Linked DNA regions of Homo sapiens. The protein of the gene in region 3 interacts with the protein of the main gene of each other region in a biochemical or structural test. Each region holds a gene or a part of one and is shown on either strand. Other genes may lie near its edges. The genes, in order: RIGI, DNAJC5, PRKCG and SDC2.

Region 1 (7,033 bases), on a different chromosome or scaffold from region 3:
GCCCCTCATTCATCATGATTGCTTCCTGAGTTCCTGTTTTCCCACACAGTTACATTTCTTCCCTGCTATATAAACCCCTAATTTTAGTGGGTCAGGGAGATGGAGTTGAGACTAATCTCTCATCTTCTTGGCTACAGCTCCCAATTAAAGGCTTCTTCCCTGGCAATACTTGTTGTCTCCCTGTTTGGCTTTCTGTGTGGCTACCAGGAGGACCTAGGCCAAACCCCTGGTGCTTCAGTAACAGATTTTTGTGGCTGGGTTGCTGTGGTCTAGGAGTCTCAGAAGCCCTCCTAAGCAACTGCCCACCCAATTTTGGCTGGAAGTGAGTTTTGGTCTCTCTGGCCCTGCTGCTGCCAGCCCCAGCTGAGTTCCTGATTGCTAGGAAGAACAGCCTTTGAAATGTGACACTGGCATCTGGATAAGTGAGTGTCCTTTCTTGGCCCAGACAGCAAGATCTGCTCAATTTGAAAATTTTAAAAGGAGCTTCCATTTGCAGGTTAAACCAGCCCAACTGACTAAGAAAGGGAAGCACCCTGACTCTCAGTATGATACTCTAGAGAGCGTGTTTGTAATTTCTGTGTTTGTGTCTGGCCAAGTTAGTGTCTTTTTTGGGTACCAGACAGTGGGATCGGCTTCTCTCAATTTGGAAAATTCCTAAGAAATTTCTGTTTGCAGGTTAATAAAGCCCGATTGAGAGAGAAAAGCACCTCGACTGTTTCAGTTTGGACACTGTTCGGGCTTGTCTATTGCTTCAGCAGTCGGATTGTGTTTTGTTGATTGTATGTGTCAATATAGTAATGGGAAATTAGAATTCAACAAACAAATATTCTTTTGTACTACGTTTGCCCCAATATTCTTTGGAATCTGGAGTTGGCTGTTGAATGGGAAAGCCAGGTGGAGTCCCATGTATTCTGGCTTTTATGCCGCTGTTTTAAGCAGGGTTGGGCCTGGTGAGTAGTTTCCACATGACGTTCTTCTGTAGTGCTGTTTGGCCCCAGGTTTCTTTGGAATCTAGCTTCTAAAAATCAAACTGCCATGGAAACTGCTTTACCCAAAATTCTGGTTCACAGCCTTCATTGGATTACCGATTGGAGCAAACAAATTTTAGCCATGTGGACTTGGTTGTAGATTCGTGAGTTTGTATTGCTATCTCATGGCTAGAGTTCCAAGGTAAAAGCTGTTGGATCTTTGTGTGTGTATACATGTTTAGATGTGTTTATCTAGATGTACATTAACTATGTTATACACTATACCTACCAAATTGGCTTATAAATAAGAGTGCTCATAAATTAAGTCCAAAGTGTTTTTCAAGTTCACATGACTTCAGTAAATCTTTAATAAACAAGCTGTCTTTAAAATTATTGGTAAAATAAAAATAGAAATGTCTTCAGAATTGTCAGCATACATTTTTGTCTCGGCTTTATATTTGTCTCAGCTAGATAATTTGAGGTATCAGAGTTTGGCAGCAGGTTATAAAGCTATAAACCCAGTGAATATTTGTGTGAATTCTTTATAAGACTAATTTAATGCTGTTAGTTTAATGAAAACAGCTGAATCTTCTGAGTTATTGATCAAAATGCCCACGTATTAATTTTAAGGTTATTTAGGTGAACACCTGACATTCACAGGTTATAAAATGGTTAAGAAGGAAATGATGCAGAAATAATCTAGATAAACTGCTAAAAATAAATAAAATGTAAATGGTCAAATGCTGTAAATGAACTTTTGGCATAATCGGAAATATAATCATTGGATGTTTGAGTCATTTCCAATTAAGAAAAGGTTATGATGTGGGGAACATGTTTCTAAAAATTGTGGAATGGTTCTCATCTATAAAATACTAATATCTGCTAGGCAGCTCAAGATTTCTTGCTTCCTAGGTTTTTACTGAAATTTAAGGTTGTTACTAAGGATAAGAATTCTAGTTCATATGTAATTCTATATATAAAATGTGCAAAAGACAATGTGTTTTTATTCAGAAAAAAATTTTATCTAACTCAGAAGTTATCTAAAGTTTATTAATAATTATGGACTTGAAAGGTTACTTATGAAACAAGGTAGAAAAGAACAAGTAGACGAGAGAGATGTGGAGAAAGTTATGAGTATAAAGATGTATTTTTGGTAAGGAAGGTTATAAAGAAAATAATTTTGTATGACAAAGCATCTTATAATGGTATTTTTTTTGTCCTAAAGTAAAATGACTGTTTAAAAAAAAAAAAAGAAGAAGAAAAAGAACGAAAATCCAGGACAAATCAGAAAGTCTAAGCATATCATAGATGGTGTGTGTAAGTCATGTAGTTTCTTTCCTATTTCTTTGTGTGTCTACCTTTATGTACAGACAGAGAAAATACAAAGTATAAAAGGCTTAAATAATATTCTCTTAAAACCAGATAGAATATTGGAGAAATCTGGCTAATTAACACTGCTCATAGTTAAAGCTCTTAGTCTTGATGAAAGTAAAATAAGAAATATTGTAAAGAAACACATTGGCAGTTTGGCAATCCTTTCTTAATATAGTTAACCATGAAGCCAGATAAAAGCCAGATATAGCAACAACCAAATTTCACCTACATGCTTGCATTGCTTCACACTGTATTTGCTCTTCTGCATAGATATACTATCATTACAGTATAATACTTACTGGTCGGCCTCCTCCAGAGTAGCTGGGATTATAGTTGTGTGCCATCATGCCTGGCCAATTTTTGTATTTTTAGTAGAGATGGGGTTTTACCATGTTGGCCAGGCTGGTCTCAAACTCCTGGCCTCAAGTGATTCACCCATCTTGGCCTCCCAAAGTGCTGAGATTACAGGCCTGAGCCACCACGCCCAGCCTAAAGTGAATTTCTTAATTGCACAAAATATATAGTGGTATTGGTGAACTTAAAGACATTAAATTGTGCATCAGGAACAAAATATTCATCATGTGTTTTTTTGGCTCTGGGTAACACTATAGCCTCCAAGTTAAACTGAGTAGAAAATTTTCAGGTTGGTTTCCTGTTTGTTTTTTCTTTTAATTTGCATTTATTTGCTGTTTCTTCTTCTTTAGGTTTTACTTATATATACATATTAATAAAACCATTGATGGCTTTTAGTTTCTAATGTAAGGAAGGCTTTTATTTGGTTCCATGAATAATCATTTTGTTTCCTATGCATTTCCAGTATCTCATCATTTGCTCTACTTATCCAAAGTTCCTAAGCTACCTTTTTCAAGCTTCCAAAAATTGTTGGTGGACACCAGCCTTTAAAATTTGTTTGGTTTTGCTTACCTCTAATGAACTAGAGAGCTATAAGAACTTTAAGATTCCTGGCAAAAAATAATAAAAGGTTTATTCTTCTAAGTTCTGAACAGAAATAGTACATTATTATTGGTTATTTGGAAAAGTAGGTGAGAGAAATGTTTAAGTGGTGTTTATTTCCAAGGTAATTCAATTCAATAAACAATAGCGGTTTCAGATCTTTTCCTTTAATGAGGCAAAACTGCTATATGGGTACAAAGTCTTAATATTCAGAAAAAAATTGGCTTTGTCTTTAAGGAAATTATATTGATTGGGCTTTCTCTCAAACTAATTTAGTTGTGTTTACTATTATTAAGATTAAATAACATTTACTTGGATTAAGTCATAAAAAAAATTATAAGACTTTCTAGTGTTTTTTTTATCCTAAGCCATTTATCACTGATGGGCCTTCACATGTATACTTGAAAACAAAATATGTACATACAAGTGTTATGCCAGTTTGAAGATTCTAGTGGTGTAAGTCACTTAAATCAGTTGTCAGTACTTTATCTAGAAACCAATCTTGGAAATGTATGATGAGGCTCTTTCAAAATAGCTGAAAAGAAATTACTGTGTGCTTATTGTCACTTTGTCCTTGTTTTGTTGTATACTTTTTAAATGAAAGATTTATCTTCATATTGAATTTCCAAAACTGATACTTGCATTTACCATTTTTTTTTTTAATGATGGAAAGAAAAGTTAACTATCTTACTTTGGTAAGTTTGGCACAGGACTTACCACATTTTTGAGGCTCTAGGTCACAGTTTTGTCACTAGAATGCTAGCAGATAAATGCAAGGAGTAACCTAACCACTTTAATACAATGGATTGTATAATGGGTTGAAGTGTTTCAGACAGTAACTACTAGGCACCAAATCCCAGGGTTTTATTTTGTGACATATTAGAGAGAATGATGAGGTTTCCTGCAGTATAAATATGCTATTAAATAATTCTTAGGAAACAATTATTTAGTAATTCAAAGGCCTTTGACTCCTGGATCCAAAAAAGACACCAATACCTGCTAAATCTTGAGCACTGACACCAAATGAAGCCTCGTCTTCAGACTCAGGAGAAGGTGACAATCAAAATGAACTGCTTTCATGAGACATAGGGCTAGAAATTAAAACCATTCAATCCCTCTACGCCCAGGAACTATTGCACAAAAGGTGAGCACGTGAGCTTGTAAGGGCTGATTTTGAGTTATAAAATTAGTTCAGGGTTTTTCTATAAATTAAACATTAACATCAAAAGCACACTGATGCAAGGCCAATGTCTGGGCCCCTGTGTCATAACAGGGTTTTCTTGGAGCATTACTCTACTCTTTAATAGGAAATCGTAAAACGTTATAAAAAGATGGCTGGGTGTGGTGGCTCAGGCTGGGCGTGGTGGCTCAGGCCGGGGCTGGTGACTCAGGCCGGGTGTGGTGGCTCACGCCTGTAATCCCAGCACTTTGGGAGGCCGAGGCAGGCGGATCAGCTGAGGCCACGAGTTGGAGACCAGCCTGGCCAACATGGTGAAACCCCGTCTCTACTAAAAATACAAAAATTAGCCAAGTGTGGTGGCATGGCCTGTAATCCCAGCTACTAGGGAGGTTGAGGCAGGAGAATTGCTTGAACCCAGGAGGCAGAGGTTGCAGTGAGCCAAGATCGCACCACTGTAGCCTGGGCAACAGAGCCAGACACCATCTCAAAAAAAAAAAAAAAAAAAAAAACTTCACAGAAATCCTATCTTATAGTCAAACTGATTAAAATTCGGCTTATAAGGTTTTATTAAAATTAGCTTTAACATTAAAAATATACCATACAAAGGTAAAATTTGATGTTCTCTTTTGAATAAAATGTTTGTATAATATTGACATAAAATATTTGTTTACCTTTTGAGTGAACTGTGGGGGGAAGAAAAGGAAGAGGGAGAGACATTTAGTTGGCCTCATGCTGTCTTTATTAGGCCTTATTGTTGGGAAACTGAGTCGCCTATCAAAGGGTAAATGTGTTTGTTTTATCTTTTTGGCTAAATGAATAACTATTTTGTAGCGACCTGTGATCCTATTTTGTGATATCAAGTGTCTTAAATCTTTGATACTGACAGACTTCCCAACAGCAAATATTTCAAGTTCTAAATTCAGGGGGTTTTTTTTAACCTCAAACTAACTTTTTTGTGTATTAGCTTCCTTGAATTCCAATACAGACAGACATGTTAGGCTTCTTTGGTATATTAGAATTATACAGGCAGCATTATCAAATGTGAGGTGGTATTTAACTTCCTTTGGGTTATATTTGTATAGATGTGCTATTAATATGTGTTGCAGGACTATATGAGATTCCTAAAATTCTGATATGTCTTAATATATGGTGTCAGTAATGATGATTATTATGTTAAATTGTTGTATGCCAACAGAAAAAAAAATTTCCTTGTCAACTGTGTCTTTATGGCTCTCCTAAGACTTTTGTCATTGCAATTGTTGTTTTGCATTGATTCTTTTCAAAAAGTGACTTATAATCAGATATAGTCCAGAGCTTGTTTATTTAGGGGACTTCATGAAAAGGAGTCTTGAATGCAGATTTCTGATAACTTTGGAGACTGTGCCACTGGAATACAGAAAACTTCTAGGACTCTTAATTAGAGTCCCTCTTAATTAAAAGGCTGACATGTTTATAAAGATTACTAACCCAATATGAAACACAGCAGGAGTTGATTGCATGGACTGAACTAATGTGGGACTGAAATAATTTTTTATGGTTTTGTTTGAAAAAGTCTGGAGAATTTTTGTTTTTTGGAATCTGGAGAATTTTTTCTTTTAAGCTCTTCATAACCTTTAAGAATACAGTATATTAAGTAGAGTATACCCTTTTAAACAGAATTTGAGGCATTTTCTCTCTCCCTAATTTCTCCAGAATTTATAAACTATTTGTGAATATTCTTAGTTCATGGCAATGTGTTTTCTTGCATACATTTAATAAAAATCTGTTTTCTTTTATAAGGGGACACAGTTGGAGGAACAAGTTATTTTCCCAGGGCTTTGACTGAAATGGCCTTGTGAGAGGTTCCAGCAAAGCCAATTAGGAGAGCCCATATGGACAATAATTTTTGCTGCACTTTGTGTGGGTAAATAAGCCAAGTATATGTAACTGAGGCTTATTTTGCAGGTAGGCCCATCCAGCTGTGATATGTCTTTGGTGGAAGCGGGGAACAGTAATGATACAGATTGTGTCTCAGAAGAAAACTATAGTATTAGATTAACTTTTGATTCCTGGATGGCCACGTGGTCACCCATAGTATGGAACTGCCCACCACGCCATTCCTCAGCATGAAGCTGCCAGAAAGATTGAGGATCAGATTCCCCATGATCCAGGAATTGATAAATAGAAAGAGGGGGACTGAAACCAACACAATAGTCCCATATACAATTCTTTCGAATAAACATGGAAATTGACCCTCCTGATCTTAAAGCTGAAACTTATATTTGTTTTATCTGAGTTCCTTCCCCAGGAAAAGGACCCCCAGGCCTCTCAAAAGGTATAAAAGAACTGAAACTCATCAGACCATCACATCCAGACAATGAGACACCAGGCCCCTCATTTATCATGATTGCTTCCTTACCCCTCCAGAGTCCATTTTCCAACACCTAGTTATATTTCTTTCCTTCTATCCATACCCCTAATTTCAACGGGTCAGGGAGATGGATTTGAGACTGATCTCCTACCTCCTTTGCTGCAGCTCCCAATTAAAGCCTTGGCAAAACTTGTTGTCTCAGTGATT
Region 2 (3,419 bases), on a different chromosome or scaffold from region 3:
ATAGAGGATTTCAAGATGTTTGTTACGTTATTCTGAGTTTTTGTTAGTTTGTTGACAGGATCTCCCTCTGTCACCCAGGCTGGAGTTCGGTGGTGTGACCACAGCTCACTGTAGCGTGGACTTCCCATGCTCAAGTGATTTCCCTCCTGACGAGCTGGGACCTCAGGCACGGCTACACCCAGATAATTTTAAACTCTTTTTTGTAGAGACACGATCTCACTGTTGCCCAGGTTGGTCTTGAACTCCTGGGCTCAAAGCAATCCTCCCACACTGGCCTCCCAAAGTGCTGGGATTATAGGCATGAGCCACCACGCTTGGCCTCTTTGCTCCAGTCTTGGTATTTAGAAAACGGAGGTGAAAACACAATCAAGAGGAGGGGGCATTTATCCACATCTGGACCAGGCAGGAGGGAAGCAAGGTTCCAGCCGCAAGGGGTGTGGAGGGCTGAGATCAGCTGCTGCTCTCCAAAACCAGGGATCTGCGGGACTAGCGAGTAAGACATACGTGGGGTCCGCAGTGAAAACATTTATTTTACAACAGTAATCTTTATTTTAGGCCAACATTCAGACATACAAGACGGAGATCACCATGCGGAACCAGCCTGGCCCTTAGATGTGTGTGCTCGAGCCAGGATCAGCCGGAGTCTGACAGCGCCTGCACCCCAACACGGTCGGATTCCAGGACGCCAGTGACAAAACCAGTGCATGGACAAGCAGCTTCCATGCGTGTGCATTTGATTTTTAAAAACAATACATATTTCAGTGTTAACTTCCCCCCTCACCTGGCTTGAAACATTTTCCCCATTTTCCAGGGAAACAAACTCTACCAAAAGGTGCCGCCTGCAGGACCCCGGGCCCAGCCCCTTCTGGAGGTGGTGCTGTGTGGACTCCTCTGGGGCGGACCCGGGGCCAGCACAGGGCCCCTTCCCAGGCCGCCCTTCAGATGCAGCTTTGCCACTGACCGTATCTGCTGCTCAGAAAATCAGCTTTCATGTTTCAAGGCAGGGAAGGGCTTCCAGTCCCCTCCTCGATTTCACACCGGGACACACACCTGGGTCAGGTGAGCATGACACACAGCCCCCAGGATGGGCACCCCACCCTGCAGAGCAGAGGCCAATGCTGGTGGGGGCCGTGGCAGTGCCCTGGGCACACACCCTCTGCACACAGTGGGCTCAGCGCTTCCTTCTGTGCACCTGCTGGGAAAGCCTCCTGCAGGTCCCTGCCCGACTCCCAAGAAACCAGAGGCCATTTCAGAGCCACCTTTAATTGTACTTGTCACTTCACCAGGGGACAGCAGCATGAATGACACTCCTGCTGCGTGATATATACATATACACATATGTACACACACGGACACACCACAGCCCACACTCACAGCATGTGACGACGCAAACTGTTGCTGGTAAGGACAGTAAAAATGTAGCTTTTGCCAATTCCACAGGAGAATGATTTACAACCAAAATAACAGACACAGGCCAGTCCTGCGCCACAGGGGTTCACAGCTCTGAATACTGGGAAAGGGTGAGATCAGTCATTTCGTGTCCCCTCACGAGATGTCCCCACAGTAGGATGCACTGAGTCAGAGCTAAGGGAGGGTGGACAAGCGCTGAACTCTGCCCGCAGCACCCGGACCCTCCAGTGGCAGCCTGCATGCTGGTGCCCTTCCTTGCAGCACAAGCCTCGCCCGGAACAGAACGCCTGAGAGCAGCCTCGACGGCGTGAGGCTCCAGGGCCTCTTCTGGATGGCAGCAGCCGACGTGAAGACGAAGCTTTTCCTGCTGGGCACGTGTGCATGCCAGTTCCTTTTTCTAGTAGGTCCCCACTGGGTGCTGGCTGCACTAACAACATAGAGAACTAGGAAAGTTCACAAACACTGAGCAGTAATATCTAAAGCAGTTTAAAAATAAAGCCAAAAGGAAGACAAAAAAATCCCACGTCACTGAGTGGAGACAAATCTATACAGCAGCAGCTGCCGTGAAAGGGCCCGCAGGGCCGCTCCTACGCCTCCTGCAGGTCGGAAGCAGTCAGTGCTGCCCGGACCCCCTCGTGAACCGGACGGGCCTCAAAGCACGACCCCAGAGGGCCCCTGGCAGCCCCCAGCAGCGGCGTCCAAAGGGACATTCTGTGCCCATGGCCACACTTGCTCACAGCATTGTCTGCGGCCCGAGAGTGAGGAGTCGGGGTCCCGTCACTGCCACCAGCAAAAGCAGGCAGGGGTGCTGGGGGCGTCCTGATCTGTTAGCACGTGGACAGGGAGGCGCGGAAGCTGCCCCAGGACTCACCACCTCTTTTAATTATAGGGAAACAGTCCACTCAAGAAAGAGAGAAATAAAACCCGGGAGGATCTTTTTCCTTAAATTAAGACAAAGCCTTAAAGCCAACAGGGCAGAGCGCTGAAAACGGTTCTGCTTCTAGGTCAGGCAGGGGGAGGAACTCCAGGCCCCGAGTGTCTGGGCTTCCCGGGGGTCGTCTAATCACAATCACCACCGTGAGAATGGCCACAACCATGATTTATTAGGTTTTACAGATTCTGCAGGGGACTGGGTTCCACAAACCTCCAGACCTGCTCCTCTTTCCCACCCTACCCCACCTTCCGCAGGGAGCTGCATGGTTCTACAAAATGGTCCACTGGACTCTGTAACTGAAAAGCCACCTGGCAAGGGGCCCACTCTGATGGGTACCGAAGGGCCTTGGAGTGTTCTAGCCACAGAGCTGTGTGCAGGCCCAACAGAGGGCCTGGTGGGGCTGAGCTAGGGCCCCCGATGGGCAGCTTTCTACCTTAGGTCCAAGCTTAGAACCTGGCTCTTGGCCAGTCTGCGGAAAAATAACTCACGTCCTAAGCTACATCTACAAAAATTGCAAAGGCTGAGTACAGCCAGCATCTCAGGCTGAACTTGCTGCTGCACGAAGCGGCACGGAGGCACCCCACTGTCTCGCCACCTCACCTTTCAGGATGGGCCAAACAATGAATTTCTTATTCTTTTAGGAGAGGTCTGATTTTGATAAATTATTTCTAATTTAATATCACAGTGCATATCTCTCCTCTTGTCAAAGGTCTTCGTGATCATTTTAGTGAGAAGAAACAAAGAAAAGTGGGACAAACAAAGCTGCCCAGGACCTAGTGCTGGCAGCCGGCTCATGGTCCACATGCGGATCTGCAGTAGGGGTCAGCTGGGGGCCCTCAACCAGCACCCTGTTCCTAAGCACGTCCAGATGTATCCTCATATCCATGTCCCTTTTGGCAGCTTCCTGGTCAACCTGAACCTACCCTTCTGCACAGCCTCGGGTGGCTGCTGAGGGCAATGAGTGAGCTGGGGCCACGGGTCAGCAGGCAGGCAGGGAAGGGGGCTTCAGGAGGCTCATCTGGTTGGTCCGAGCCAGAGCCATCACACACAGCCTCCTCCTCAGCTTTATCTCTAC
Region 3 (7,839 bases):
ATGACACGAAATGGAATTTCTAATCCTCAGCCACAGTCGCCCTGTTTCAAGTGCTCACTGGCTACATGGAGCTGGTGGCTGCCTATTGGACAGTGCATGTACAGAATGCTTCCGTCACTGTAAACAGTTCTGTTGGTCAATGCTAGATCATCAGCCCCATTTTATAGAGGAGGAAACTGAGGCTCAGAGATAAAGCAGAAAAGGGAACGGGAATGGGCACTCAGGGTTGACTGGTCTTGTGAGCCTCTGATGGAGAGAGAGGGGGTGGGGAGAGGCTGTGTGTCTCTGCGTGCTGCACATCTGTGATGACAGGGGCATCTGTACATGCACGCACATGTGTGCAAGTGTACTGTGGGACTTCCCTGGGTCTCCTCTCAGCATCTCCTAAGCTGTTGTCTGTATCCACCATTTTCTATTTTAGTCTCTTTCTCCAGGTGTCTGTGTCTCCGTCTCTTGGAGTTTCTCTGTCCATCTTTTGGTGCCTCCAAATTCCTCTCTTTCTCCCTGGTTCTTTCTCTGCTCCATCTCTCTCTCTCTCTGCCTCAGCTTCAGTCTCTCCTAGGTCTCTGTCTTCTTCTGTCTCTGTTCCTCTCCCTGAGATTCCCTCTGTCTTATGTTGGCATCTCCGCACCTGCACTGATATTTTTCTCCGTGTGCCCCTCAGCTCTCAATTTTTAAATCCCTTCACCCCTGGATCACAGCCCACCCCCGGCAGCACCCATCTTCAGTCTCCTCACCCCGGCCTCCTCTCTGTGCCCCACCCGTGTCCCCAGCCTGTCAGTCCCCCTCGCATTCCCCCTTTCCAGGCCAAGGGCAAGGAATCTGGGCCAGATAGCTCCCCCTATCTCTCCAGCCCCCCTCCCCTCCCAGCCATAAAAATAGCAGGAGAAATTGGGACGGACGCCGAGGGGGTGAGGGCGGGGGCACGGCCCGAGGAGGAGAACCAGGTGTCCGAGCACTCACGTCCGTCTGGGGGCCCTTCCCAGCGCCTGGACACTCGAAGGTCACAAATTCGTGGCATCGTCGATGAACCACAAAGCTGCAGACTATAGATGAAAATCATAGAGACACAGACGGAGGCATGGATTAGTCCAGCGGGAGACCCCAGCAGACAGAAAATTGGAAAGAGAGAGCGGAACTCGGACACTGAGAAAACCAGAAAGAGAGGGATCTCAACACAGAGAGTCCAACAGAGAGAAAATCGGAGGCCAGAGAGAGAAGCAGGAGACAGAAACCCAAGAGATGGGCTCAGAGTCAGAAACAGAGACGCAGAGACTTACAGAGAGACACAGAGCACAGAGCTCAGGGAAGGGAGATGGAAAAAGAGAGAAAGAAAATAGGATCCCATTGACAAACAGACACAGGCCCACGGACGGAGATCAGAAAGCCAGGAGAGAGGCAGACAGATTCAAAGAGCGAAAACCGAAATATCTTCAGACGCAGCCCAGGAAGCAGCAACTTGGGCAGAAGTGAGTCTGGGGGCGCTGCTGCCGGCCCGCCCCCCACCCTGACTCACTCTGTTCTCAGCAGTAGCAGCTGGTGCTCAAGGACTCGCCCCCCTCTCCCGCCCCCCAGAACTGCCGGCCCCGCCCGGCCCCCACTCGCCCATTGGTGACCCCACCCGGCCTGCCCCTGCCTAGGACGGCTGGTGTTGTCATGGCGACGGCAGCCTGGGGTGGGGGGGGGCTCTGACTTTGCATCTCCAGCCCCCTCCCCCTTCCCCCCTTCAGCTCCCCTTTTCCAAATCTCCATGTTCCCATGGCAACAGATTCTCCAAATATCTGTCCCCACCTGGAGCCGGCCGAGGGAGGGGCCCCCAGCACCACCTCCGCGGTGGCCCCACCATCAAAGCTCCCTCCCCACCACAGGCTGTGTCTCTGCCACACCCCCCGCCCCGGGCTCCCCCGCGCCTCTCTGGGGACCAGAGAACACGTGTGTCAAGCAGCCTCAGCTGTGGGGCCCCAGCCTCCACCCTCCTGAGGGTCCCAGGAGCCCCGGTCCCCAGCTCTTACCTTGACATTGCAGGCCCTGCTTTCCGATACCCCTGGAAGAGTCAGGGATCCTAGGTCAGTGCAGAAAGGGGTACCTGGACCCCCAACCTCTGCGAGCCACAGGGGGCCTGCGCTCTCTGACCCTCCTCCCGCAGGGCCCAGGTGTCCAAGCCCCGGCCACCTCCTCTTTCTAGAACCCAGAAATTTTGGCCCCCAGCCCTTCTTCCCTTAGACTGGAGTTCAGCCCCCAGTTTCTTCCTCCTTCAGACCCAGGAATCCAGGCTCCCAGCCCCCCAGGCCCTTCCTCCCTCAGACCCAAGACTCCAGGACCTCTGTCCTCCAGCCTCCTCCTCCCTCGGACCCAGCACTCCAGGAACCAGCCTCCTCCTCACTGAAACCCAGGAGTCGAAGCTCCCAGCGTTCCCTGGCCATCCTAGAACCTGGGAGTCGGGACTACAGCCCCCTCCTTCTTCCTTCCACAGGGGTCGGCGTGATAGGAGTCTGCACCCCTAGTCCCCTCGTCCCCCAGTCCCCCAGCCCCCTTCCCTCACCAGATGAAGTCGGTGCAGTGGCTGCAGAAGGTGGGCTGCTTGAAGAAGCGAGCGGTGAACTTGTGGCTCTTGACTTCGTGGACCACCTTCTGCCTCAGGGCCCCCTTTCTGCAAAACAGGGGCCGGGGTCCCCCCTCTGAATCGCCTACGCCGGGGCCCAGACCAGCCATGGCCCCAGAAACGTAGCAGGGACCAGGATCCTGCCTTTCTTGGGGGAAACAGGTGGAAGGGAGAGGAGCTGGAGACTCGAAGGATCAAAGGAGCCACAGGGAAATTCCGAGGTGGGCAGGAGAGGGGCAAGGCACCTCCAGGTGCGGAGCGCGCCAGGCAGGGAGCGGCACCCCGGGCGCGCCGGCTCCGCCAGGGGGAGCGGGCGAGTGGGGAGGAAGAGCCAAAGGCAGGGGCGCCGGCAGCCGGAGGCACGGGCGGCGGCGGTGGGAGCTCCAGCTCCGGCACCTGCTGAAATGTGGGAGCCCCGGGTTGGGGGAGGCGTTGCCAGGACGACCGAGAGGGCGGGGTTTCGGCTTAAAGGCGCTCCCCTCCCGGAGACACGGGACAAATGTCCTCCCTCCCCGCCCCCCACACGTGCACACACCCACTCCGGGGGCTGGCTGGAGGGAGGGGCATCCTCTGAGCCTGGCTCCCCCCCACCACCCTGCAATCTGTCATCCTGCCCCGCGTTCCTCCCCCACTAGGGTGCCTCGTGTGTCCTGTGGGCGCCCTGGGGTCCCTGTGTCTGACCCTGCCCCTCTCCTTCCTTCAACAAACTTTATGCTCCACGCTAGGGGTCCAGCAGTGGACAGGCAGGGCGCTAAGGTTCTCACTTTCTCCGATGCCGGCTGAGTCTTTATTTCCTCCCCTGGCCTCTCCATTATTTGTGTAGCTCTCTGCCTGCGTGTGTCTTTCTTGTGACCTCTGTCCCTCTCCCTCTATTCCTGGAGCGAGCTTTCTCGATGTGTCTCTGTTTCTGCCTCTCAGTGGATCTGTTTTCTTTTCCCTGTCTCCGAGAAATGCTGTTTCTATTTCTTTCTATTTCTCTATTTCCTCTGCTGTGTGTCTCCATCTGTATCTGTCGCCATCTCTGGGTCTTGGTGTCGTGGTTCTTCTCGGGGTCTTGGTCTGCCTCACTGTGAATCAGTCTCCCTCTGTCTCTCCCTCTACGTCTGATAAATTCTTCCGCCTCTGTCTCCCTGAGTTTGTTTCTTTCCCTGTCTTTGTCTCTCTGGCTCTGTGAATCTCTATTCTCTCTCAGGCTGTGACTCTGTCTCCCCCTCCCTCTGCAACTTGATCTCTTTGGGAGTCCGTCTCTGTCTTCCTCTCTGGGAGTCACTCTCTAAATGCTTGCCCCTGTCTCTCCCTCTCTCTCCTCACCTCCACCCGTCTTTATAAATGCCTTTGTCTCTGTCTCTCTCCCTTCCTCCGGTTCTGCAACTCCGTCTCTGTTTTTGTTTGTCTCTTCCTATATCTCTCTGGTTCCATCTGTTTCTCTGTACTTGTCCCTCTCTGGCTCTGTTGATCTCTCTCTCTCTCTCTGATGCTAGGGGGGTCTCTCTCCTGTCTATGACTCAGTCTCTCTCTCCCTCTTCTCTTCTCTGTCTCTGTCCCTTTCTCTCTGACCCAATCTCTCTCCCTCTTCTCTTCTCTGTCTCTGTCTCTGTCCCTTTCTCTCTGACCCAATCTCTATTTGTCTCTCTGGCTCTATGAATCTCTTTCTGTTTCTGGGGATCTCCCCGTCCCTCTGTGTCTGTGATTCACTCTCCCTGTGTCTCTGGCTCTCTGAATCTATTCATCTCTCTGACTCTCTGAATCTGTGTCTCTGGCTCTATGAATGTCTATGTCTCTCTGACTCTGAATCTGTGTCTCCGGCTCTATGAATGTCTCTCTATGTCTCTCTGACTCCCTGAATCTGTGTCTCTGGCTCTATAAATCTATGTCTCTCTGACTCTGAATCTCTCTGTGTCTCCGGCTCTATGAATGTCTCTCTATGTCTCTCTGACTCTGAATCTCTCTGTGTCTCTGGCTCTATGAATCTCTATGTTTCTCTGACTCTGAATCTCTCTGTGTCTCTGGCTCTATGAATGTCTTTCTATGTCTCTCTGACTCTCTGAATCTCTGTGTCTCTGGCTCTATGAATCTCTATGTCTCTATGAATCTCTGTGTCTCTGGCTCTATGAATCTCTTTCTATGTCTCTCTGACTCTCCGAATCCCTCTGTGTCTCTGGCTCTATGAATCTCTCTGTTTGTCTCTTTGGCTCTGTGAATCTCTGTGATTCAGGCTCTCTGAATCTCTCTATATGTCTATGAATCTCTCTGTGTCTCTGGCTCTATGAATGTCTCTCTATGTCTCTCTGACTCTCTGAATCTCTGTGTCTCTGGCTCTATGAATCTTTCTATGTCTCTCTGACTCTCCGAATCTGTGTCTCTGGCTCTATGAATCTCTCTGTTTGTCTCGTTGGCTCTGTGAATCTCTGTGATTCAGGCTCTCTGAATCTCTCTATATGTCTCTATGAATCTCTCTGTGTCTCTGGCTCTCTGAATCTCTGTCTCTGGCTCTAGGAATCTCTGTCGAGGGTCTCTAGATAGAGACTTCCCTCTCTGTGTCTCTGTGATTCAGTCTCTCTCCCTCTTCCCTTTTCTGTGTCTCTCTCTCTGTCCCCTTCTCTGACCCACTCCATGTGTCTATCTGGCCCTGTGAGTCTCTCTCCATCTCTGAGGTCTCTCCCTCTCTCCCTGTGTCTCTGTGATTCAGTCTCTCTCCCTCCTGTCTTTTCTATGTCTCTGTCCTCTGTCCTCTTCTCTGACCCACTCTACGTGTCTCTCTGGCCCTGTGAATCTCTCTGTCTTTGAGGTCTCTCCCTCCCTCTAAGTGTCTCTGTGATTCAATCCCTGTCTCCCTCTCTCTAGATCTCGCTGGCTTCGGCATCCTCTCTGTGCGCCCCCTCTCAGGAAAGGGGTCTCTCCAAGGGCCGGCGCGGTCAGTCTCTTCCGGCCTCCACACCTCTTGGTCGCTCTACCCGCGTCCCCGCCTCTCTCTGGTCGGGCTCTGCGCCTCCCCGGCTCGGGAGCGCTTCCCAGTCCCCGCTCCCGGGAGACCCTCTCTGTTGCCAGGGGCAACCACGGCCCGCCCCGGGCTGCGGGCGCAGTGCATTCTGGGACTGGTAGTCCGAGCCTGCGGACCAGCCACTCTCGGGACACGACCGAGAACTCCGCCTCCCGGCGTGCCCCGCGAGGCTGGGCGGGACGCTGCGGCGGCGCCTGGGAGGGACTCTGGACGCCCAGCTTACCTTCTCTGGGACTTTTCAGGGGTTCGGGGCGGGTTTCCTGGGATTCCCAAAGCCGAAGGGAAGGTGGGGGAATCCGAGTCCTCTTGTAACCACTCTCCCTAAATGTGGAGTCCACTGGCCTTCCAGCCACCTCCAGGTGACCTAGGGCGAAGGATAGGCGGCGGGGATGGCCCCGAAACCGACCTAGGAATCCCACCACGTTCTAGTCCAGTGTCCTTGAGTTCTTTCCCGAGTTAACCAACGTATCACCCCAGAGTTCTATAGCTGTTCTTTCGGATGCCTTCCAGAAGGGATTCAGGCATGGGATGGGAGAGAAGGGTGGGCGAGGCGTCCTTTAAGAAGACAGCGATGGAGTGGGTTGGAGCTCAAGAGTGGACGCTGCAGAAATGAAAAGGAGGCCTTTCCTCATCCAACGACAGTGTGTGCCCCAGCTGGCCTTTCCTTCTCCCCTTCCAGGGGAACCCTTCCCTCCCTTGCGGTATCTCTCCCCAATTGCTTTTGCGGATGTAGATGCAGATAGCGGGTTCTGTGATCATCGAATTTTCTTTAAAACTTTTTTTTAAATAGAGACGAGGTCTTGCTGTGTTGCCCAGGCTGGTCTTGAACTCCTGGGCTTAAGCGATCCTCCCGCCTTGTCCTCCCAGTGTTGGGACTACAGGCGTGAGCCTCCGCGCCGGCTGATCATGGAATATATATATATATATATATATATATATATATATATATATATTTTTTTTTTTTTTTTTTTTTTTTTTTTTTCAGACGGAGTCCCGCTCTGTCTCCCAGGCTGGAGTGCAGTGTGGCGCGATCTCGGCTCACTACAACCTCCGCCTCCCAGGTTCAAGCGATTCTCCTGCCTCAGCCTCATGAGTAGCTGGAACTACAGGTGCCCTCCACCACGCCCGGCTAATTTTTGTATTTTTAGTAAAGACGGGGTTTCACCATGTTGGCCAGGATGGTCTCGATCTCCTAACCTCGTGATCCACCCGCCTCAGCCTCCCAAAGTGCTGGGATTACAGACGTGAGCCACCCGCCGGGCCTGATCTGGGAATTTTGTAGGGCTTATATTTATTTGTGTATTTGTGATTCTCCTGAGGTCCGGGAAATATGTAGGCGGAGGATTACCTAGGTGCCCAGGCAAGAGACTGAAGGCACAAACTGTTTCAGTATAATAAACAAAATAGTTAGAATAAGAATAGTCATAATACAAATTAGATGTAGAGATGATCATGGACAATTATCAATCATTATTATAAACATTATTAATCATTAGCTTTTAATATTACTCTTTGCTGCATTACTAATGTAAGCTAGGAATAACCGGCAGGTATAGGGTCAGGTGCTGAAGGGACATGGTGAGAAGTGACCTAGAAGGCAAGAGGTGAGCCCTCTGTCACGCGCACATCAGGGCCGCTTGAGGGGTCCTTGGTCAAGTGGTAACGCCAGTGTCTGGGAAGGCACCCGTTACTTAGCAGACCACGAAAGGGAGTCTCCTTTCCTTGGAGGAGTCAGGGAACACTCTGCTCCACCAGCTTCTTGTGGAAGGCTGGATATTATCCAGGCCTGCCCGCAGTCATCCCGAGGCCTAAACCCCTCCCTGTGGTGCTGTGCTTCAATGCTTACACTCCTCCTTCACTTTCATTCTCCTCCCATACTCCTGGTTCCTCTTTGAAGTTCATAGTAGATAGCGGTAGAAGAAATAGTGAAAGTCTTAAAGTCTTTGATCTTAGAAGTGCATAGAAGAAAACACTGACGTATGCTGCCTTCTGTCTCTGCTTCGGCTACCTAAGAGGGAAGGGCACCCTGTCCCGTGATCACGTGACTTGCTTCACCTTGTCAATCACTTCGAAGATTCACCCTCTTTACTCTGCCCCCTTGTCTTGTATGCAATAAATATCAGCGAGCCCAGCCGTTATGGGCCACTACCGGTCTCTGCGTCTTGATGATAGTGGTCCCCTGGGCCCAGCTGCTTTCTCTTTATTTTTGTCTTGTGCCTTTATTTATTACAATCTC
Region 4 (7,687 bases), on a different chromosome or scaffold from region 3:
CAGCTACCAGTTCCTTTTCATAGGCAGTTTTGAGCCTTAGTTCCTGAGAACCTCTTTTTTACCCCCAGAGCTAAGTATAAAACTTAAGAATTCACTAACTGTAGGCAGTTTTCCTTTCTTCCTTTAAAGGGAGACTTTAAACCCAAATCACTACTTCTAAATCCCAGGAAACAGTTGCAGTTTTCAAATTAAAATGCAAAGTCCTGGAAATAATATTCTGTAATTGCTAATTTTTTTTTAAATTCAGTCTTTTGACTTCATTTATATTTTTGCTGCTATACATGAAACAAACGGAGACTGAAAAGTAATTTAAATGGACTGTTAGCCATTCTGGGCCTTGAAACAGCTTCTATTTAGAAAGACTGACTCACTGCCTAACAAAGATTCTCTGCTAGTCTCTAAGTTGACATTTTATAAATATCTAATCACCCTTTTTGGATGATTTTCCAATTACTGAAAACAGTGTCTATCACAATGAAGCAGTTCACTCGGAAAGCATCCAGTTCTGGTTCAAATTGAGAAATATTAGAACCCCAAAGATACACAGTTCAGGGGAAAGCTGTCACCGGGGAGGACAGGTATATAGTTCGGCCAAAAAACTTCCTTAAGGAGCACTGGTAGATTTATGCAAAAACCCAGAGGAGCAGAAGACAGAAACATTCTTTCTCCAGAATCCCAAAACAGTAACATTTCCTAGCAAATCCATGAATAAGACTCAGCAAAAAAAAAGGGCCTCCTTAACCATGTGCAGTTTTTTAGGCAGGCTCTTGAAATTTATTAGATGAAGTCCCTTTGCCCTGTTTTGCAACAAGAGGAGCAACAACGCTCATCTGAAATAAACAAGAGAACTGCTGCCTTTTGGTGTACAAAGAGCCAAAGTTCATCCTAACTGGCTGGGAGATAACTAATACCAACGGATTAAACCATCATTTGCCAAAGGGAAACACTGATAAGGCTGGGAGTTCTATTTTACAACCTGAGCACCCAAAATACTCATGTAGTCTGTACAGTTTCCAATTCTACATGCTCTCCAACCACAAAGAACGTATGGGGATCTGCTAGCACACACAGAGGCTCCCACACTGATTAAAAATGTCCATCTGCCGCTCGATGCCAAAGAGGTTTCCCAGTCCTAAATTAGCCTCAGCACAAAAAAGGGGGGGAGGGAGACTCAAACTCATAAAACTACCTAAAAGACCTTAAGATGATATAATTTGTCTTTGAAAAGACCATTCAATTAATTAGAAATTGACACGTTATTAAATGGCAAAGGGAGAGGACGTGGGGAACCAGAAGGGCCAGAAACAGCCGCACTCCCTGAGACCCCAGAGGGCACTGAGGCTGCAGACGAAATCTGGGGTGCTCAAGCTTCCACCTGGCCCGACAGAGCTCCTGGCGCCCAGGTGGAGGCAGCTGCGGACGAGAGGAGGCCAAGGAGGCAGTTCCCTTTAGAGGGCGCTCATTGGGCGACGTGGGGAAACAAGCTCCAGCCCCCGAAGCGCGACCAAAAGGAGAAATCAAGTTCCCACCGCCAGGGCGGGGGAGGGAAGCTGGGTGCCGGCAGGCGCTCCGCCGGAGACGAGACTCCTCCCGGCCCCAGAAGCGCCCCGCCAGGGCCAGAGAGGGCGAGCGTGGCGGGAGGGAAGCCTCTGTCCCCCAGCGGCCAGGCGACCCGAAGCCGAGCGCCGTGTCACACGTACCCCGCCTCGCCCTGCTTGCGGCACTCCCGTGTAACTCCTATGAAAATGTCCTCCCGTCCCTGACGCCCCGCGGTGCAACCTCCACCCCTCAACGAGGAGGGGGTCGCCGCAGGACTGGGAATCCAGTGGCCGGCGTCCCAGCATTTTCGGACGCGTTCCGTGCCTCCCCCAGTATCCCCTTGAGGGATCGCCTACTGCGATTCCACGTAGTGTCGGTTACCTCGCCCTAGCCGCAGGGAGCATCAAACAAAAGAACTTTTGCAAACTTTTCTCTCTGGACACTCGCGGGTCTCTTAAATCTGGCCCCCATCTCCCCAGAACTTGCATGCAGTCAAACAGGAAAGCTGGCGCGGGGGGGATGGTGTGCGGAGGAAGGGACCCCGAAGTTTCCAGGTCATCCCTGGTCTCGAGGAGCGCGCGGAGTGGAGCCGTTCCCTCGCGGGCCCGACCCAGGCTCCCCCCTCCTGCCACCCTTTCCCCTCCGTCCTTCCCAGACCACGCAGCAAGACCCGCCGAGGGCGAAGAAGTTGGGAGTGACTTCAGGGGCCTCTGCGGCTAGACCAAACCGCAATTCTCGGTGCCCCCATTCCCGCGGACCGCGGGGTAACGCCAGCGAGCAGCGCTTTTCTGAGGAAGGGAAGAGGGGGAAAGGGTGACCGGACGAGCGCATTTGTCCCAGCGGATCTCCGGTGTATACTTGGGGACTGGGGGTTCCCCAGGTGGCGCTCCCCTATTCCCTGCGGGCTCCTCTCGTAGCTTCAAACACCCTAAACGGCGCGCGCATCCTCCGCCTGGCCCACTCACCGACTCCGCCGACACGCAGGCCACCAAGCCCAAGGTGAGCAGGATCCACGCGCGCCGCATATTCCCCAGGGACCGGCTGCTCCCAGCCGCTGCTTGCAACCAGGGCAAAACGAAGCCTCCTGCCCAGCGCTCGGCGCAGCCCGCGCACACGAATCCGGAGCAGAGTACCGCAGCGATTGCGGCTCAGGCTCGGGGACTCGGGCTCGGGGCTCGGGGGCGCTCGCTTCCTCCTCCTGCGCCTGCTCCCGCCGCCCGCAGCTGCGCCCCGGGAACGCGGCGCCCTCTCACTTGTTGGTTTCTGCACTCCCGACACGGAGTTGGTGCTCCGGGAAGGCTGCTCTCTGAAGCTCTTCTTGCTCTGCTGTGGTTTTGCTCCTCCGCGGACTCCTTTCCCGTGCCGAGGTTCAGTTTCTGGTTTTAAGGAATAAATTCGCTGGCTTGAAAGGGAGCTACGGCAGAAGTTTAGGGGCAGAGCGGCGGGAGCGCGCGATCCGCGCGGCTGGAGCTCCGGGGGTATCTGGAGAGCAGCGCGTCCAAGCGGGGCCACTGGCTCCGCGGCTGCGCCCCTCCTCCTCCCGCGCCGCGCCTCCCTCCCCGGGTCCTCCTCCTTCTCCTCCTCTTCTTTTCCTCTGGCTCCCTCCCTCCTGAGCCTGCTTCTCCGGGCTCCCCTGGGCGACTGGGGAGAGGAGGCGGCAGTGTGACTCCCAGATAAACCCGGGAGAAATTCCTACAGGATTACACGCCGATTGGCAGCTCCGAGGACCAGTGGGCGCCGCGGCTCCGCGCTGTGGCTGCGCCGGCTCTGCTCACCGGCAAGCCAGGGCTCCTGCGTTTTCTCAGTCCTTTTCTTCCTTTCTCTCCCCACTTTTCCTCTCTCCTCTATGCTCTTTTCTTCCCCGTTGTCTTTTCTCTTTCCCTTCTTCACTTTCCCTTTTCTAGAGAACAATTAGTGAAGAAACGAGAGACGTATGTAGCTTTTCTGCCTTGAGAATTCGACCAGTAGAAAGAAACTGCTTTGTGAGTTGAGGGAAAAAAAAAGTGTAAGATGCTTTCAAGCAATGTGAAGTGTTCATAAATCGCCAGTTCATGAAAATTGCATTTTAAAAGAGAAGATAATTAATGTAATAAATATATAGTGAGAGTGTTTCCCATTCTCCCAAATCCTTCCGCACCCCCAAAAAAGGGACATGGAGGAAGGATCCTGTAAACCCAAAGTGCAACAGTTTGAAAGCTCCTAACTTCATTAAGGGCTTAAATACCATTTCTCCCTCACACACAGTTTATGCCACTAAGGCTTTTTATAGGCTCCATTTTAGCAGATAGGTGTTAACGTTTGGAAGCTACAAATAGGGTAATTTGATGAGAAGTTGGATAGAGACCCTGAATAATAACAGATTTAAGATAACTTCAAAGAAAAGAGGGATAAAGTAATTCTTAGTTTGAAGAAAATAATGAACATGTATTTCCTAAATGGAAGTAGCTGACATGAAATATTTTGTTACAATGTCTGTGGCATATTATAGAACATGGCAAATGCGTATTCCCTTCCAGTTTCTTTTTCTTACTGTCACAAATTTTACACACAAATCCCTTGCAGTTCGTGCCATCATTTTTCTCTCTGACTTATAGAGTAAATGAATTATGACGCCATTCTGCTCCTGGAATGCCCACTACAGGAAACCAGAGACTTTTCTGTCTGTTCACCATTGTATTCTCATTCCTGGTACATAAAGACACATGATAAATATTATCTTGAATAAATTTTGCTCTAAAGCTCAATTTATACCGTATAAGAGTTGTGAGCCTTTAAAATACACCAATGTAGATATATAGATATGAGGCCATGGTAATTTTTCAACTCAGTATTAGAATAAAATACAGTCATACCCTCAGTGAGAATTAAATGTCTTAGTAACCTATTACTGTAATAAATCTCAAAGAAAGAAATTTAACTGGAGAATTACAACTCAAACTTGGAGACACTTATTCCTTTGGTTTTGTGTGCCAGCTACCAAACCTACAAATGCTCATGAGCAAGTCTAAGGCATTGGCCAACAAAAAGGTAATATGGAGAAATAGAAGAGTAGGCAAAGGAGAAAGAAGAAAAAGAGCAATAGGCCAGAAGTTGTAACATCAGATGATGCTTCTGATTCCACAGACACTGTAGCTGGCATCTGTGCCAATGTGGGCTCCACTTAGCTTTTGAAAGAATGAACCACAGCCTTTTTTTTTTTTTTTTTTTTTTTTGAGACAGGGTCTCATTCTTGCCCAGGCTGGAGTGCAGTGGCCTGCACTGTAGCCTCTACCTCTCAGGCTCAAGCAGTCCTCCCACCTCAGCTTACCAAGTAGCTGGGACTACAGGCACAGGCCACCACACCAGCTAATTTTTGTGTTTTTTATAGAGACAGGGTTTTCCATTGTTGCCCAGGCTGGTCTCAAACTCTTGGGCTCAAGTGATCTGCCTGCCTCAGCCTCCCAAAGTCCTGGGATTAGACACGTGAGCCACCAGCCTAGTGCCCTTATTTTTAAGATGGAGTCTGTGGGTTGAAGAGGTTCATGAGATGGGGAGACTTCTTAAAAAGGCCTCCAAAGGAAAAGCAGCAATGCAAAATACATGCAAAGAGCCATAAAATACCAGCTCTGTCCTCATAAGAGGCCTCGTCTACTCGCCAGCCTTCAGGCAAGGCCACACCTCCATTGTCCCCAACAGTTAAGTATTCATCAAATAAATTGGAATTCCAGTAAAACAGGAAGTGCACTCCACTGATTTGCTGGTTCTCACAGTTATTGCTGTTTACTGGGGCACCCATGTAACAAGAAGCGTGGTGAATGCTCTCTGATTCAGCTTGGGCAGACAGTGATAAAAAATGAATAAGTGGATACACGTGTTGAAGGGATATTATCTGTTTGCTGCCCTGAAGGCACACCCCAAGGCTCTTGGTGTTGATGAGATGCTCAGTGACTTGTTTCTTTAAAGATGATAAATACTCCATTGAGAGTATATATAATAAGGGAATTGGTACCATTTTGAGTGACACAATATTAAGGAGATGAAAACAAATATTCAAGATCTTGTGTTCAGATTTATTAACAGCTGTGGCAAGAAGGATAATCTGACAGTATAAAAAGCACTTACACAAGAGCTGGCTACAAAGAGGTCACCCATGCTGAGTGGGGATGGGGACAGAAGTCAGGGGAGGTCCGCTGGTATTAGTCAGGATTTGTCTAAATTCGCAAACGATGTAGGCCTGTTTGTGTGTTTTGCTAATTGGAAATGTTTAAAAAACTGATGGGGACTAAAATTTGGCAGAATTTTGTGTAGTATATCTAATTCACTAAGTATAGCTTGTGACTAGAACCAAAGGTTCTTTGCAAATATACTTCAAGTCCTCAGGTTTTGAGGGCTATGCTTTGAGGGGCACAGCTTAACCAATCACTTCCCAAATAGCTTCATTGATTGCTAAAAGAATAATTACCACACTTCAAGAGTCTCAGGAGAAAATATTAAAAATAAACAACATAGAGATTAAGATGCAAACATGTAAAAACAAATAAAAAATAAAGAGAACCAGACAAGTGAAAAAATAGAAATGAAAGCTACTAAAGACAGTTTTTAACCTAAACTGACACATCGGACTCTGTCACTACGGTAACAAATGATACCACATTACAACCGTGGATAAACAGGTGTTCTGTCCTGAGGTGAGTTGTCAGAGTAGGGGATAGCGGAAAAAAAAGATGCCATTCTGTTGTTCTCGGTTGTTCTTCCACTTGGCACCCCCTGGACTGTTACCAGGAGTCCAGGCTAGAAATCAATTTGGTAGGATTGGCTCTTATGAAATTCACTTGAAAGATGATAGAAGCTGAGAGGAATAGGATATCCATCCAGCCAACCATTAATGAGCCATCGCTAATACTGGCAAGTGAGCTGAGGCCATGACCAAAATCTACAGGCAATCCAAAAAAATCTATTTTCAGGCCTGGCGCGGTGGCTCACACCTGTAATCCTAGCACTTTGGGAGGCCGAGGCAGGCAGATTGCCTGAGCTCAGAAGTTCAAGACCAGCCTGGGCAACACGGTGAAACCCCGTCTTTACTAAGAACAACACAACAAAAATTAGCCAGGTGTGATGGCGGGCACCTGTAGTCGCAGCTACTTGGGAGGCTGAGGCAGGAGAATTGCTTGAACCCGGGAGGTAGAAGTTGCAGTGAGCCGAGATCATGCCACCGTACTCCAGCCTGGGCAACAGAGCGAGACTCTGTCTCCAAAAAAAAAAAAAAAAAGTCTATTTTCAGCCTCAAACTTTCCACTGTTCTCTTTATTCACCTCCATCAACCCCTTCCCAGAGAAGTTGGCTGATTTGAGTTTCATAAAATGATATGGTGCTAATGTTGAACAAAATTGTTACAGTTTTGGATAGGAGGACACAGGAAAATCAAGGAAGTGTATAATACATAAAATAAGACAGGAGATAAAACAGTTACTTCTGTTTTTCTTTTTCTTTTTTTTCTTTTTTTCTTTTTTTAGAGACGAGGGCTCACTATATTGCCCAGGCTGGCATCGAACTCCTAGACTCAAGTGATCCTCCCCCTTGGCCTCCGAAGGGTCTGAGATTACAGGTGTGAGCCATCACACTTGGCCCTTCATGTCAGTTTTTCTAACAGTGTGGTATGGTTCTTTAAAGGCTGGCAAAATTTGACATTCAGTCAACAAATATGTATGGATCACCTGCTGCAACTCAGGTACTCACTGGGTAGGCACATGAATTTTCTTGAACCTTGTTAGAGTTAATACATTTTTAAACTAAGAGTTGTTCTCAAGTCATGAATCTGTGACTAAAGTACATGATGAATTTCATTCTAAAATCAGATAAAGTTTAAAGAAAACATTATTTATGGACTAAAATACATATCCAAAGAGCCATATTTGAATGTTATAGATTTGGATGTATGAATCCAGGAAGGTACCACAGAGGTATCTTCAAGTTATTTTGCATTGCATTTGTATATATCCAGTTGAACAGGAAAGTCTAACCTTGATTAATTTTATGTAAAATGGTACTATTTTTTAAATTGACAAATAAAAATTGTATATATTTATGGTGTACAGCATGCTCTTTAAAAATATGTAGCCAGGTGCAGCAGTGGCACACACACCTGTAGTCCCAGCTACTCGGGTGGCTG

Evidence for each region.
Region 1: of the proteins of PRKCG (region 3) and RIGI, one has a biochemical effect on the other in vitro, tested with the Homo sapiens proteins (one study listed by BioGRID).
Region 2: of the proteins of PRKCG (region 3) and DNAJC5, one has a biochemical effect on the other in vitro, tested with the Homo sapiens proteins (one study listed by BioGRID).
Region 4: of the proteins of PRKCG (region 3) and SDC2, one has a biochemical effect on the other in vitro, tested with the Homo sapiens proteins (one study listed by BioGRID).

The regions. Positions count from the first base shown.
Region 1 is NC_000009.12:32,516,178-32,523,210, forward strand, and holds part of RIGI (antiviral innate immune response receptor RIG-I), read right to left. Parts: intron 1-7,033.
Region 2 is NC_000020.11:63,933,118-63,936,536, reverse strand, and holds the end of DNAJC5 (dnaJ homolog subfamily C member 5), read right to left. Parts: 3' UTR 526-3,419; downstream 1-525. UniProt on the Homo sapiens protein: Acts as a general chaperone in regulated exocytosis. Acts as a co-chaperone for the SNARE protein SNAP-25. Involved in the calcium-mediated control of a late stage of exocytosis. May have an important role in presynaptic function.
Region 3 is NC_000019.10:53,877,368-53,885,206, reverse strand, and holds the start of PRKCG (protein kinase C gamma type), read right to left. Parts: upstream 3,011-7,839; 5' UTR 2,713-3,010; coding exon 2,543-2,712; intron 2,045-2,542; coding exon 2,013-2,044; intron 1,047-2,012; coding exon 964-1,046; intron 1-963. UniProt on the Homo sapiens protein: Calcium-activated, phospholipid- and diacylglycerol (DAG)-dependent serine/threonine-protein kinase that plays diverse roles in neuronal cells and eye tissues, such as regulation of the neuronal receptors GRIA4/GLUR4 and GRIN1/NMDAR1, modulation of receptors and neuronal functions related to sensitivity to opiates, pain and alcohol, mediation of synaptic function and cell survival after ischemia, and inhibition of gap junction activity after oxidative stress.
Region 4 is NC_000008.11:96,489,149-96,496,835, reverse strand, and holds the start of SDC2 (syndecan-2 precursor), read right to left. Parts: upstream 3,024-7,687; 5' UTR 2,565-3,023; coding exon 2,505-2,564; intron 1-2,504. UniProt on the Homo sapiens protein: Cell surface proteoglycan which regulates dendritic arbor morphogenesis.